Homo sapiens: one gene and its partners. The protein of the gene in region 1 purifies or fractionates together with the protein of each later gene. This does not show direct contact. Each region holds a gene or a part of one and is shown on either strand. Other genes may lie near its edges.

Region 1 (3,500 bases):
GACATTTACTTCAGGGATATGCCCAAGGATTTGCTTTTGTCCTTCTGGACACTTTGTTGTTGAGCAAAGGTGAATTCACTCTCATTTTGGGTAAATTGTTGTTTAACAGCTTCCTTAAACAGGTTTTTGTATCTTACGGATTCTGGAGGGAAGTCATATATTTTACTCTATCTGTCAGGTGTTCACTGTAAGGAAGGGGATTTTAGATATAGTGGTTATGTCTTTTAAAAAGTTTCCTAGGATTTCAATCCGTGTAGATGGAGCTACACTGTACTTCTCCTAAGCCTTGGCCATTTTATCTTAGGTAATATGGACTCTTCAGGGGGGGAAAAAAGGGGAAGGGGGGCTCTTGAATAAAATGGGTAGCCTTTTCACATATTGACATCTTCAGTATTAATTTAGAGAGAGCGATACTAACTTCTTCAATGAAAAATTATTTATGGAAGAGATCCAGTGTATACTTCTAATATTTCATCAGTATTACGTTAAATTGCTTGTAGATTAGAGGTGCTTCTTGTCATAGTGAATGGAGACTAATACCTTAAGTCATTCCTTTCTAGTATGATGATTGTGGTTGCTCTTACTGAGGACTATAAATGTGGATTTGGTTGATACTTTCACGTTTCTCCTTGGACATTGCAGATGGAAGTCATAACCCCAAATGTCTTACTTATCTGCAATTTTGCTCTGAGATATGGACCAGGCTCTAGCAGACCGTCTGCCACTGTGTAGTTAGTGTTGCCTGATTAGAAATAAACCAAGTCCTGCCTAAATTGGTCAATCTGTTTTGTTCCGCGTCCACGCAGGATCCACTTACAGAAAGCCAGTGGCTGCTTTTAACCACTATCGAAACCTCAGTCCTTTGTAAGTACTTTCCTTGGAGCAGAAGGTTTAAAAGCTCATGACTAAACACTCATTTTGGAACTCAAAATAATCTTAGAGAAGTTAGTGGGTTGCTCAGAGTCCCACGAGCTGCTTATGGGCTGCGTGGAAACCCAGGTTATTTCCCCATAAAGCCTCACTCCTGCTGCCCCTCTCTTCTGAGAGAGAAGCAGAGAATGTCTAATTGAGTCACTCTTACTCACTGTCTGCAACGTAAAACTTTTTTTTCTACCATTTTTTTTTGTACCCTAGAACCATTAAAAAAAAAACCAGTCTGGATCCTATATCCGTCTCATGATCTCCCCCAGAGGAGACCTCTTCGGCCTTTTAATACACCACACATGCCCCAGGGGGACGGTGCAGTCACTACCTGCTGCCACTTCATCCACAGGCCATCTTCCCCTCAACTTACTCCTTTCTGCTTCTTACATTATGTGCACGTGGTTTCCTTTATATGCCAAAAAGTATATGGCATGCACTGAAATAACTTTCTTCATAAAACTAAACTTTAGTTTTTCTAAAATTTAAGTTAAATCCTTGTTTTTCTCCCAAAATGCACAGTGGTTGGGGGCTGGGAAGCTGGCGATGGTGGGTATGTGTTTGAAAAGAACGCCAGCTGGCTTTAGACTTATTTGGGGGCTATAGAGCAAGCGGAGCAGTCAGGCATCCCACCCACCCCTGAAATGCTCGGGGCCCTCTTGGCAGATCCAGTGTGCACGTTGTCGTGGCAGGTGGTGGATGGAGAGCTTTTATGCCGATTTCTAGCGTTATCTGGCTTATTGGTTTGAGAGCTGCATACAACGGGATGTTTAATCTTTTTTATTTAAAATTACCATTTATAGTATTTGGGGTGATTTAGAGGATTTAAAAAATCTGTTAGATTCTGAAGTAGTCCTTAAAATATGGAACATAAGTGCTTAAGATGCTAAAACACTTTCTAAAGCATACTATTGGGATGTTTGAAACTGATGTTGGTAAATGTAAACTGTGTGCATTTGTGTTTGGATAATCTGTGATAAGTTTAGTTTTTGATGAGACACAATTTTAATTTCACATTTAAAATGACATATTGAGGTCAATAAGAGCAGGTTTGAATTTACATTTTCCAGAGAAACCCACAATTAATAGGTAACTTTTATTTTCATAATGCTTTTAATTATTACACTTACGTAGATTCAGAAATGGATATATTCCTAAAATAAACCAAAATTAAAACTTCTTTGTCTTTTTAAAGAAAAGCTGTGGTTCTATTAGAGAAAAATACTTCTTTTTTAAGTTTATGAAGAAATAGCTGTTAGATAAAAACTTTTCCTGGTTGAGCTTTCTAAATTACAAATTTCCTGAATTGCATGGCAAAGTGACTTTGAAAAGACCCACTTCATTTTTCCTTTGACAGTCTATTCAAAACACCATTACCACGTAGACTAATACAATAACCAAGGTAAATAGTAACAAGATCTAATGGGGGAAATAGTGTATCAAAAGGGGGAAAACAGTATCCACTGACAGAGAGAACTAGCTGTTTCTTAAAGAGACAGAGAAGAAAGGTTTCCTCGGAGTTATTGGGTCTTCATAGGATGGTCTCCTGTCCTTCTCTGAGCTTGCCTTGGAAACTGTAGAGGCTGTAGGAATATTTGCTGTCTTTAACCCTTACTAATGTTCTCAGCTATTTCATTAGAGGATCACAGTGTCTGTATTTGCCTTAGGTGTAAGATGATTGGAGAAAAGGAAAATGTAGAGAAATCAGATTGACTTTAGATGGACAGGCAGAGAGTTCTGGAGTGACTTCCCACTCCTTAATTCTGCAATGCACCCAGAAGGCAGGGTGAGGTTAGATGATCACCTGGGTATTTACTATAGCCATTATTACTGTGATTAGATAAAGTGTCCTGGAATCTTCTCTGAATAACTCATTTTTCTTTTTTTTTTTTTTCTTTTTTTCGTTTTGCTCTGTCGCCCAGGCTGGAGTGCAGTGGCGCAATCTCAGCTCACTGCAACCTCAGCCTCCTGGGTTCAAGCGATTCTCCTGCCTCAGCCTCCCGAGTAGCTGGGATTACTGGCACCCGCCACCATGCCCAGCTAATTTTTTCGTATTTTTAGTAGAGACAAGGTTTCACCATGTTGGTCAGGCTGGTCTTGAACTCCTGACTTCGTGATCCACCTGTCTTGGCCTCCCAAAGTGCTAGGATTACAGGTGTGAGCCACCGCACCCGTCCTTTTTTCTTTTTAGACAGTCTCACTCTGTCGCCCAGGCTGGAGTGCAGTGGCGCAATTTCTGCTCACCACAACCTCTGCCTCCTGGGTTCAAGCAATTCTCGTGCCTCAGCCTCCCTAGTAGCTGGGACTACAGGTGTACGCCACCAAGCTTGACTAATTTTTATATATATATATATATACAATATTTTTTTTGACAGAGTCTCGCCGTGTCGCCCAGGCTGGAGTGCAGTGGCACGATCTCGGCTCACTGCAACCTCCGCCTCCCAGGTTCAAGCAATTCTTTTGCCCCAGCCTCCAAAGTAGCTGGGCCTACAGGTGCCGCCACTATGCCCGGCTAATTTTTTTGTATTTTTTAGTAGAGATGGGGTTTCACTATATTGGCCAGGCTGGTCACAAACTCC
Region 2 (3,500 bases), on another chromosome or scaffold:
TATTAGTTACACTATAACATTTTTGTGCATTCTGGTAACAAATTTCTGAATGTATTCAAAAACATTACCAGCAAAATTCAGATAGCTTGGAAGAACAACAGTACCTCTCAGTTTTTCTTTAAAATAACTCCAAATTAATATTTACAGATTTTGTAAAACCTAGAATTTGGGCCTTTTAATAGCTGAAAAAAAAGCTTTATGTTAAGATTTAATTTGTATGTTTTGTAAAAATAAGTTATATTTTTCTGAGCTAAGTAAGATTCTCATTTTAACCTGATTGTCATGGAATTGCCCACTCTCTTTCTCCATCCATAAAATAACATTGTTAATACCCACTTAACCAAAATATTTCCTGTGAAGTTAAAATGAGGTCACACTTAGGAAAGTACTCAGAAGAAATCCAAGCGGTTGGAATCATTTTTCTAATAACATTGGCATCTTCTGGGAACTTCTCAGTTAATTTGTTCAAACTGATCCACTGGGGACAAAATGTTTGGAGAAGGCATGTCATTTTATTACAGTCCAATCATTGTTATATACTTATAGGAATAACAGAAGCAAAACTTGAGTTGGTAAAATGATTTGTCAGAGACATTAAAAAGTCAGTGTAATCAAGAGTGGTAAATGAAGCTACCCTGTCTGTGCTCTGGGGCCCTTGAAAGGGGACCACCAAGGGCAGTGCAGTGTTTCTCTGCCTCCTGTTTGCTAACTCTGCTCCTGCTCTTCTCTCCTGTGCTTCCGGGCTGCAGGTCTCACTCCATCGGGTAAGCGCCACAGGGCTGCGTGTGGGGCTTTCCCCACTCCCTTGCTGCCCCTTTGCTTTCCAGGGCTCCCTGTTTCTTTCACACTGTGCCTGAACCAACAAAACTACACTCTGTTTTCCAGACAGTTCCCGTGACCAGGAAGATAGTTTATAGGGCACTTAATACATTTGAACTTATTGAAGTACATCTCTATCTCATTTCTGAATCATTTACACCATTTCACTTGCTGAGCTCTCTCTCAGGAGTCTCTTTCTCTGCACCATTTCTTCCGGTGTTGACAGAGCTTCTTAGAATTGAAAAGAAGAAGAAAAAAAAACAAAGTGGAGATTGAAAGTTATATATGTTTTCTGAAACTTCTAGAAAGTAAAGTTGAGAAACAAAAACAGATTTTCTCTAGATTGTCATGTTTCTCTGAATTTCTTGTACCCATAATTTGTGTTGATGTTTCACCTTCAACTTTCTGTGCCTTCTGAAGTTGAAGGGAAGAAAGGTACCGGAAAAGCACGTACGTATGTTAAGAAGTTTGTGATTTTTAATCCCAAGCCCCCGAATTAAAACTTCTTTTAGCCGGAATCTTATTATATACTTTTATTTTTTTAATTTTTTCCTAAGAAAGCGGTCTATATTTACAGAGATACACCAATTGGTAATGCAGATGAGGCTCTTTTAGTGATGCTTTTGAAGTGTAATTTCTGAGGAAATATCTGCCTAATAGTTTCTAAATCAAGTGTCTAGGGTAAGACCGTAAGTATCCCATGAATTTGTTTGTCCTTTTCTTTCTGTGTTCTAGCAAAGTGCTACCCATACTAATGCCCTCAGTGGATATTATGAGGGAAGGGTGACAGATTTGGTCCCTGAACTATTAGCTCCTTGAGAGAAGAGAAAGCAGGGACGCTGTTGAAAAGTGTGAGGTGGGAGCAAGCACTAGGCCAGGAAAATGGACCCATTGTGCTCCTCCCCATGCCCAGCCTGATTTCTGAGTGGAACTCAATAGAAAGTAACAGGCAACCAACCAGAGGGAAGATGAATCAGCTACTAGGATTAATGGGATGAGAAGTTTAAATCTCTTAAAATTCTCAGGAATGTTTGTGTTTGTACCAGATGTTCTTGACAGTCATCTAGTACAAATCAATCATCTTGACAATCAAACCAGAATGGATGCAGAAGTCCCTATGGCCTATGAGAACTGTGTTTGCCTGGCATGTGCTTCCTTGAAAGTCTTATGTTAACTTCTTGCTTTCCTCTGGCCAGTTTCTCTACCATGGAATGATTAGCTTCTACCTGCCTGGCTCTATTTCCTGGATACTGCCTTTTGCTCCTTACTGTTTTCCTGAGCAGAAGGGAGTAGAGACCTAAGTTGGGCCTGGAGAAGATGCCCATGGGCTACTGGGCTCACCTGGGAGAAACCAGACATTCTCAGATTTCCTGGCAAAAGGAGGCTGCAGAAAGTAAAATAATATGCAACCACGGATCCACCATCTACTTTTCATTTATACCCTTGAAAGCTGACTATACCCATTATACCCAACAAAAACAAATGTCATCTTGGTTAGATGGGCAGGGAATATTTCAGATATTTGGAATTGCTGTTTTAGAACTACGAATAGGGAGTTTTTCATGTACTTATGTGTGCTCTCTTCTTTTTTCTTTTTTCCCCTTTAATCTGCTTTTGCTCTGAAGTTACTCCATTCGCCATTCCATAAGTATGCCTGCTATGAGGTAATGTGTGTAAAATATTTTATGTAATATTAATATGAAATGTGTTTAAGGTGTTATTTTATTTATATTTACTTATGGGGTTCCTCTGCTTTATGTGAAAGGAAATTGCTGATGGTCTTCAAAAGAAAAGGCTGACAATTCTGTGGAAGAATTGCGTAGCTTGGGCTTTTGACCAGACATCCTGGCTTAAATCTAGTCTTTCCTGTGTGATCCAAGACAAGTGACTTAACCTCAATTCTTTTATCCATATATTGCAAGAAATAAGACCTACTTCATATGGTGTTTGTGAGGCATAAACAAAGGAACCTACATAAAGCATTTAGCACAGTGTCTGAACATGCCAAGCAATCTTGCAAAGGTAAACTTGGGTTTCTTATTTCCGCAGAATTAAATGCTAGCCTGGGGGCAAGTTTAAATGCAAGGCTAAAGTTCTAGAGAGGATATCATTAGGATTTTTAAGGTGGATATTAAGGTGAGATGTTTGTTAAATAATAAAATGTCAGTATAATTACTGACCAGATAAAAACTGGTGAGAAAGACATTCTTAACTTCAAGTTTGCATGGCATAGTGATGCAATCAGATAAAATTAAACTAATAGCAAGACAGGAATGAGTGTTAAATTGAAAATCAGAAAATGCAGGCTCTAGCCCAGCTCTGCCAAGGATTAACTTTGCACTCTTGGGAAAATCACCTCAATGGTATCAGCTTCATCATATTTAAAATAAGAGGCTAGAACCAGATTAGCTGCTTGTCAAAGATGCCCCTCCACCCACCGAGCCCTAAGGCTGCCTAGAGATGAAGCCTTTGGGATCTTCCCCCACTTCAGTCAGAGCTATGCCTCTTCTACCTGCTTTATATTGATGTTGTTGTTTGAAGGCATTATAGAAGGAGTTTAGTTACTTTCAATAGTTTGAGACCGCCGAAGCCAAATTCTTCATATATATAATCTTTTCCTCTGTTTTTTAACTGTCATGAAGAGAAATTCTTCCTAGGGTCATTTGCAGTGCTAAAAAAGT
Region 3 (3,500 bases), on another chromosome or scaffold:
AAATGAGGGCCGTCTGGGCTGGCAGGCCCTGCGAGTCAGGCAGCGACCACCACGAGCTGGGGCAGAGCAGAGGCCTCCCCTGACTTCCCTCCAGAGCCCCCTACCCTGGGGCTTCGTTAGGGGCTGGCCGGGGCCAGGCACCCCCAGGGCCTCGGGGCCTGGCTTAGGGTCCCTTGCTCCCCAGGTCCCCCTGGGCCCGGAGTGCTCGAGAGCTGTCATGAAGCTGGTCTACTGTGCTCACTGCCTGGGAGTCCCCGGCGCCAGGCCCTGCCCTGACTATTGCCGAAATGTGCTCAAGGGCTGCCTTGCCAACCAGGCCGACCTGGACGCCGAGTGGAGGAACCTCCTGGGTGAGCCCCCACCCGCGAGAGCGGCCTGGAACTGTCTTGGGGAGTGCACGACTGGGGGTCCTGGGGGGCGGGTGGTCCCTAGCTTAGAGCTTGGACCCAGGGACCTGATCAGGGATGCCCTGACCCGGGCCAGATCTGGGTGGTGCTGCAGGGTTGAGGGGCCAGGGTGCCTTTTGAATGTCCTGAGTGATGTGTGACTTGGGGCAGCTGCCAGGGAGGGAGCCCTGTGGGGTCATAGTTTCTTGTCCTTCCCCACTTAGCAAGCACCTCGGTGTGCATACATGCCAACACGTGTGACTCATCGAGGACCGGCACTTGTTTAAGCTAACACATACATGCACCGTCACATGACAGGCTGACACATGCGAACTGGCGTGCTCACTTGCTGACACACAGTGGGCCAGTGCCCACCAGTACAGCGTGTGCTCCTGGGCGCATGTGATGACATGAGCTGGGCTGACCCGCATCAATGCCAACACGTGTGTGGTAATATGTACATGCTTATCCAGATCCACTAACATGTACACATGCTTACATGAGGGGGGACAGCATGCATCTGTGCCAACACGTGCTAGCATGTGCTGACACGGGGCCAACAGGTGTGTGCTAACGTGATGGGAGCTGACAAAATGCATGAGCTTTACTTGTACATGTGCTCACCGTGCACGCAACACACACATGAACTAAGGTGTACATGGGGGGGGCATGAGGTAAGCCAGCATGCATACACACCAGCTCACACGGGCTCATGTGCACACAAGCTGGACCAAGGTGAGCCAGCGTATGTACATGTCAACACCTGCATGAGCCAGCGTGGACATACGAGACACGGCAGGCCAGCAAGCATGCAGAATGGCCTCTGTGTATGTGCGTGTTCACCTGTGCCCGTGGCACAGGTGCACACGTGGGTGTGGGCCAAGCTGAGTGCACGTGGCCTGCACATGTCACACGGGCCAACCTGAGTGCACACGTGGGATCTCCCATGCTGACCCGTGCTGTCAAGACTGCATTAACATGCACACGTGGTGACGCCTGCGTGTGCGTGTCAACGCCTGTGTGCGCGCGTTAACGCCTGTGTGTCCGCGTGTTAACGCCTGTCCTAGACTCCATGGTGCTCATCACCGACAAGTTCTGGGGTACATCGGGTGTGGAGAGTGTCATCGGCAGCGTGCACACGTGGCTGGCGGAGGCCATCAACGCCCTCCAGGACAACAGGGACACGCTCACGGCCAAGGTGCGGGCAGGAGGACGTGACGAGCACAGCGGGGTGGGGGTCCTGGATGTGGCCCCATTGGGCTTGAGGGGCCCCACTACCCCCCAAGGACCCTGCAGTGTCTCTCCAGGTCATCCAGGGCTGCGGGAACCCCAAGGTCAACCCCCAGGGCCCCGGGCCTGAGGAGAAGCGGCGCCGGGGCAAGCTGGCCCCGCGGGAGAGGCCACCTTCAGGCACGCTGGAGAAGCTGGTGAGTGGCCCCTGCGTGTCCACTGGACCAGGCATGAGGGAGGCAGACAGGCAGAGGCGGGCGGGCCCTGGCAGCCCAGTGGCCTGACTGCTGCCCCACAGGTCTCCGAAGCCAAGGCCCAGCTCCGCGACGTCCAGGACTTCTGGATCAGCCTCCCAGGGACACTGTGCAGTGAGAAGATGGCCCTGAGCACTGCCAGTGATGACCGCTGCTGGAACGGGATGGCCAGAGGCCGGTAGGTGCCCACCTGGCTGGCACAGCCCTCCCTCCCATGCCGCCTCCATTGGGCTGTGCCTGGGCCAGGTGCTGTCTGCACGGGGCCACGTCCCTTGCTGGAGGGCTTGAGCCCCACTTCTCTGCGGCCTGTGTGGGCTCTGCTCGGTCCCTGGAAGCTGCTGGGCATCTCAGGCTCAGAGCGTGGGAGAGTGTCCTGCTCAGGTGATGGCCCTTTGCAGGGGCTGGAGCAGTGACCTGGGCTCTGCCTGCCTTTCCCCCAGGTACCTCCCCGAGGTCATGGGTGACGGCCTGGCCAACCAGATCAACAACCCCGAGGTGGAGGTGGACATCACCAAGCCGGACATGACCATCCGGCAGCAGATCATGCAGCTGAAGATCATGACCAACCGGCTGCGCAGCGCCTACAACGGCAACGACGTGGACTTCCAGGACGCCAGTGAGGGCAGGGCCTGGCCGGGCGGCCAAGGGGCCAGGGTTGGTGGGGGTGCCACAGGGGTGTGACTGCCCTCCGGGTTCCCCCACCCGAGGGGCCCTCTGCTCCGGCATCACCACAGTGAGTCTGAGGACGCTGTGCTGCCCAGGCACGATCACCGAGCCCTGCACCTCTGCGGCGCCCTGGAGGCCTGGCCGGGATGTCTGTTGGCTTTGGCTCCAGGGACCAAGGGAGGCAGCCCCAGGGAGTGAGAGTCTCCCAGCCTCAGGGGTCAGCGGGGATCAGGTGCTGCTGGTCCTGGGATTCCACACCGAAAGGATGTTGGGGTCACCTGGCACGGGCCCTTACAGGGTGGTGCTGCACTGGGGTCTCCTGTGGGGACCTGCCTGCCGGAGCCTCCTCTCCTTCCCAGGTGACGACGGCAGCGGCTCGGGCAGCGGTGATGGCTGTCTGGATGACCTCTGCAGCCGGAAGGTCAGCAGGAAGAGCTCCAGCTCCCGGACGCCCTTGACCCATGCCCTCCCAGGCCTGTCAGAGCAGGAAGGACAGAAGACCTCGGCTGCCAGCTGCCCCCAGCCCCCGACCTTCCTCCTGCCCCTCCTCCTCTTCCTGGCCCTTACAGTAGCCAGGCCCCGGTGGCGGTAACTGCCCCAAGGCCCCAGGGACAGAGGCCAAGGACTGACTTTGCCAAAAATACAACACAGACGATATTTAATTCACCTCAGCCTGGAGAGGCCTGGGGTGGGACAGGGAGGGCCGGCGGCTCTGAGCAGGGGCAGGCGCAGAGGTCCCAGCCCCAGGCCTGGCCTCGCCTGCCTTTCTGCCTTTTAATTTTGTATGAGGTCCTCAGGTCAGCTGGGAGCCAGTGTGCCCAAAAGCCATGTATTTCAGGGACCTCAGGGGCACCTCCGGCTGCCTAGCCCTCCCCCCAGCTCCCTGCACCGCCGCAGAAGCAGCCCCTCGAGGCCTACAGAGGAGGCCTCAAAGCAACCCGCTGGAGCCCACAGCGAGCCTGTG
Region 4 (4,281 bases), on another chromosome or scaffold:
TCTCTTCTTTTTGGGAAGCCAGATTTTACAAAGGGAGACTTTCAGGAGGCAGATGTGGTGTGTTTTTTGTTGTTGTTGTTTGGAAAGTGTATCTTCAATTGGTTGTTAACTGACTGCTCATTGGAGACTTCTGCCAGATGCGCCCAGATCATTAGTCCGTTTGAATCATCACGTCTTCCAGGCCCCACCCTACTCTCTGATAGGCCCCACCTTCACCGTGGGGTCCTGTTAGTCAAGATGCTCTGAGAGCGCACAGCCACCAAACAAAAATGATCGCTTTGACTGTGACAGGGATTGACGTCTATTTTCGATAGCAGACTCAGCCTTAGCCATTCACATAGGAATCCTGAGCTCTGCCTTTGAGAGTATTAGGCATCCAACAAATGCTCACGGATTTAAGTGAAATGATGTGCGTTACTTTCAGTTATATGACTTCGAAGAGTCTTTGTTTTGTTTTTCAAAGTGCAAGGGTAAATCAATAGAATTCATAGGGTCTTGAGCCAGCTCCACCCATCTCTACCCAGGGACGGAATCATCTTTTAAAACTTGGATTTAACACTTACGTAGCACTTACTGTGAGCCAGAGACTATCCTAAAGACTTTTGATAGATATATCAACTCATTTAATACTAATAAGCCTATGCAGTTAGGTACCCTTGTTTCCCATTTTACAGATGAGAAAACTGAGGCACAGAGAAGGAAAGTTATACCACCATTAAGTAGTGGACCTGGGATTCCACCTGAAATACCTTGTGGCCCCTGAGCTCATGCTCTTAGTTATTGTACACCTGACTCTTTTCTTAAAATAGTAATGCACCAGACTGGGACTTTAATGACCCTGAAGTGGATCTCAAGGTCCAGAATGGAGAATGGTAATTGGGGGTGAAGATATTCCTTGATTATGATCCTGCCTCTCTACTCCAGCAGCCTCATTTGGTCCCTGAGGGTTAATGCCGAAGCCAGGGTAAGGGGCTTGTAGGTTTAAGGTCAAATTTTTTGAACCTAAGGAATTTCCCTCCAATTCTGTAGCAGCCCCGCAGTGACGAATCTGCTGCCTCTCCCACGGGTTTTGCTATTAGAGGATTTTCAAGGTGATCAAGGCAGACGAGATGAAACACCATTAAACTAACACTGAGCAACGCTGAACCCTACATAAATCTTTTTTTCTAGTCTTTCTAAGATACGACCCCAGACGAATCTGCAACTCTGGAGTGGAAACCAGGGGGCGGGCTAAGCAGCGACCATTTTTGTTTTGCGGCCGTGCGCTCTCAGAGCATCTTGACTAACAGGACCCCCACGGTGAAGGTGGAGCCTATCAGAGAGCAGGGCGGGGCCTGGAAGACGTGATGATTCAAACGGACTAATGATCTGGGCGCATCTGGCAGAAGTCTCCAATGAGCAGGCGTGTTGGGGAGGAGCGCACAAACCCTAGTGGGTTTGGTTGCACGGCGGCTTTGGCGCATTTTCGGCTGGTTTGATTCATCCATTTTGAAGAGACGGGGGAGCGGGGGGCTCGTCTGTTCCAGGAGCCCTGAACCAAAGAGCAGCGGAGTTTGAGAAGCCAGCAGCTCGGGGTTCGGCAGCAGCGGTCCCATCGGCTGAAGTTCGGGGGGGGTGGGGCGCCGAGCGCGCGGGGTGGGGGGGGTCCTGGTCTTTGGCTTCTCGACTCGGTCCTGTTTCGACAGCGAACATGTCGCGGCCTGTCAGGTCAGTGCGGAGTCTGAGGCCTGGAGCGGGTTGGAGGGGGATGGGGGCGAGTGGTGAAAAGAGTGGGGGACAGAAGGCTAGAGTCCGCCATCCCCGGTGCCGCGCGCGGCCTCCTCCCTTTCGGGGCCCGCGCGCACCCTTGAGCGTGGGGGGCCCTGCTGGCGCGCGGGGGTGGTGGCTGCGCGCCCGTGCGCGCGCCCCTCCCCGCCCCGCGCCGCTGCAGGGCTCCGGTCTGCTCAGCTGCCTCCCCCACCCACCGCACTAGAGCGGGCGGGGTGTCCCTGAGCCGCCAGCGGCCGGAGGGGGAGGGGTGTGAAGTCAGCGCCCCCAAGAGGCCCCACCTCCTCGGGGCCGTCCCCTTGGAGCCAGCGCGGGGAGGCGGGCGGACTCGAGCTCCACTCCCCACCTTCAGCGAGGAGGGGCGGAGGCACCCGTATTGCCCCTTCCCCCAGCGACTGGCGCGGGGGTGGGGGCCCTGAGCCCTCTCTGTAGCGGACGGGGGTGTTCCTGGCAAAGGGGGAGGGGCAGCACTGCCAACCGGCCCCGCCTCTGTCCTTCGGGGTCGCTGCAGGCCCCGCCTCCCGGATCGGGCCGAGCGTGGGCGGGACCCGTTTTTTTCCCCCCGGGCAAAAGTGAGAGTTCGGGACTGGATCCTGGAAAATAATGGGCTGCTGCCTCTCTCCCCACCTCAGAGTTTTGAGAGAGTTAACCCCAAAGTTCGCTCTTTCTCTCCGACTAGAAATGTCCTTCCTCGGGGAAATGTCCGTACTCAGGGAGGTGCGGGTTAACAGCACGGCCCAAATCCCGTGTGGTTCTCGTTCCACTCTCACCCGCGTACGCGTCTCGGGATATTTTTGTAACCCTCTTGTCCCCGAGTGACTTTAGTAATAAAAGGGCTAGGTTCGGGTAACCATCAGACTTCATTCTCGGAATTTCAACAAGTTTGCTATTCCCCCAGCTGTCGGTGGAATCGTCCTATGCCATTCTCCAGGCTATTGTATGGAATGTGCCATTTATGGAGGGGTGTGGTTTAGTCCAATCTGTTGAGGCCTTAAAAAGGAGAGCTGTTGCAAATAAATATTTTTAATGTAAGGAATTGGCTTCTTTGCATAGTGTGTTTTCTAAATAAATAGATAAAGGCTTAGTTTTTAAATGTTTTAACAGTCGTTGCTTCCCCTTCATTCCAAGTTGTGTGGGAAACGGAAGTACCTTTAATTAGAGTTCTAAAGAGAGGTTTGGGACCCTGGCAAGGGTTTTGTTCTACACCGTTCTGTCTCCAGACTAGATCATCCTCCAACTGGTGGTGGTATGAGACTGCGTACTCCTACACACGGGGTGGGAATGAGGAGAAAGCTGCTGTTAGCTCTGTTTCAATCAGCATCTGTGGTAACTCACGATCTCTACTCTGAAAGTTATGCTGGCCTTTTGGCAAGGAGTCTGGATAGCTCTTTCAGAGTATAGTTTGCGTAATTTTTTTGGCATAAAACTTGACCAATGTATCCATCAACTCACGTAGAATATTTTCTTTAGGATCAGGTAAAATAATAAAATAAAGATTTATTTTACCTGGATTGGATCTTTTGTCTTCTGGAAGTAATTACTGTGTGGTCAAATTAGGTCAAATTAGGAAAAATAATTCCTCTACCTTTTAAATTTTAGTTCACTAAGTTTTGATGACTTTATTTTATTGTGGTGACGTTCTTATCTCATCTGCCTGAATTTGTTTTCCCAGATTTAGGTATTGGAACATGAACAGAACATTTTTACTGGAAAACTTGGATTTTTTATGTTACCATGTGGGGATATATATATTAAGCACATTCTATCAGTTTTTTGGAGGCATTGGGACTTCTGCACAACTTTTTTATTACTCAGTATGTTGTTTAAACTAATTTTGACCTTGTTTATTTCCCCTAATTGAAGAGTGAAGTTAATATGTTGTGGGCTGTTTTTTTTTTTCTTTGCCATTTTCAAATTATTAATTTCAGAGCAAGTTGGTTACGGAGTATATTTTAGTCATAAATTCTTTGTAATTATTTTTTAAAAGAAGTCTTTATTCATGACCAATAATAAAGCAGAAATAATTAAACTTGAGTTTGGTGGTTTGTTAAATTTTGCAATAAAAAAGTCCTGACTTAGGGAAATGATGTTGTTTCAAAGTATAATTGAAGAATCTATATTCCCTTAGTGCATTTAACATCAACGAAAAAAGTGATAGACATTGACCTGATTTCAGAATCATCAGCCTTGTTTTAAAAACAAAAAAGCACAAGTTGGAAAATATTGTCACTGTGTCGTCTTTTGGGGTATTTCTGCCCTTAGGCCTGTGTATAATTTTGCAGTTTTTCTGGTTCTCATTGTACCATAAATATCCATTTTTATTTTAATATGAACCTAAACATTTTAAGAGCATTTGGAAATGTACCTATGGCACCTTAGCATCAATTTCCAAATGAAGGGTGGTATGGTGGACCTATTGGCTACTGCATGGTTTTGCAAAGACCTGTGTCTAGCACGTTATGTTTAACTTTGTTCATACAAGATTGCTGTCTTTACCCTTTGCAGTGGCCGACT

The links. The genes of interacting proteins can lie anywhere in the genome.
Region 2: the proteins of BASP1 (region 1) and TPD52L1 fractionate together in Homo sapiens (co-fractionation; one large-scale study listed by BioGRID). This does not show direct contact.
Region 3: the proteins of BASP1 (region 1) and GPC1 purify together in Homo sapiens (co-immunoprecipitation; one large-scale study listed by IntAct). This does not show direct contact.
Region 4: the proteins of BASP1 (region 1) and NUCKS1 fractionate together in Homo sapiens (co-fractionation; one large-scale study listed by BioGRID). This does not show direct contact.

Annotation. Positions count from the first base shown.
Region 1 is NC_000005.10:17,224,131-17,227,630, forward strand, and holds part of BASP1 (brain acid soluble protein 1), read left to right. Parts: intron 1-3,500.
Region 2 is NC_000006.12:125,251,273-125,254,772, forward strand, and holds part of TPD52L1 (tumor protein D53), read left to right. Parts: intron 1-749; coding exon of another isoform or gene 750-768; exon of another isoform or gene 769-1,337; intron 1,338-2,444; coding exon 2,445-2,483; intron 2,484-3,500.
Region 3 is NC_000002.12:240,463,163-240,466,662, forward strand, and holds part of GPC1 (glypican-1 precursor), read left to right. Parts: intron 1-184; coding exon 185-350; intron 351-1,453; coding exon 1,454-1,584; intron 1,585-1,693; coding exon 1,694-1,813; intron 1,814-1,914; coding exon 1,915-2,048; intron 2,049-2,310; coding exon 2,311-2,486; intron 2,487-2,895; coding exon 2,896-3,128; 3' UTR 3,129-3,500. UniProt on the Homo sapiens protein: Cell surface proteoglycan that bears heparan sulfate. Binds, via the heparan sulfate side chains, alpha-4 (V) collagen and participates in Schwann cell myelination.
Region 4 is NC_000001.11:205,747,383-205,751,663, reverse strand, and holds the start of NUCKS1 (nuclear ubiquitous casein and cyclin-dependent kinase substrate 1), read left to right. Parts: upstream 1-1,481; 5' UTR 1,482-1,690; coding exon 1,691-1,707; intron 1,708-4,281.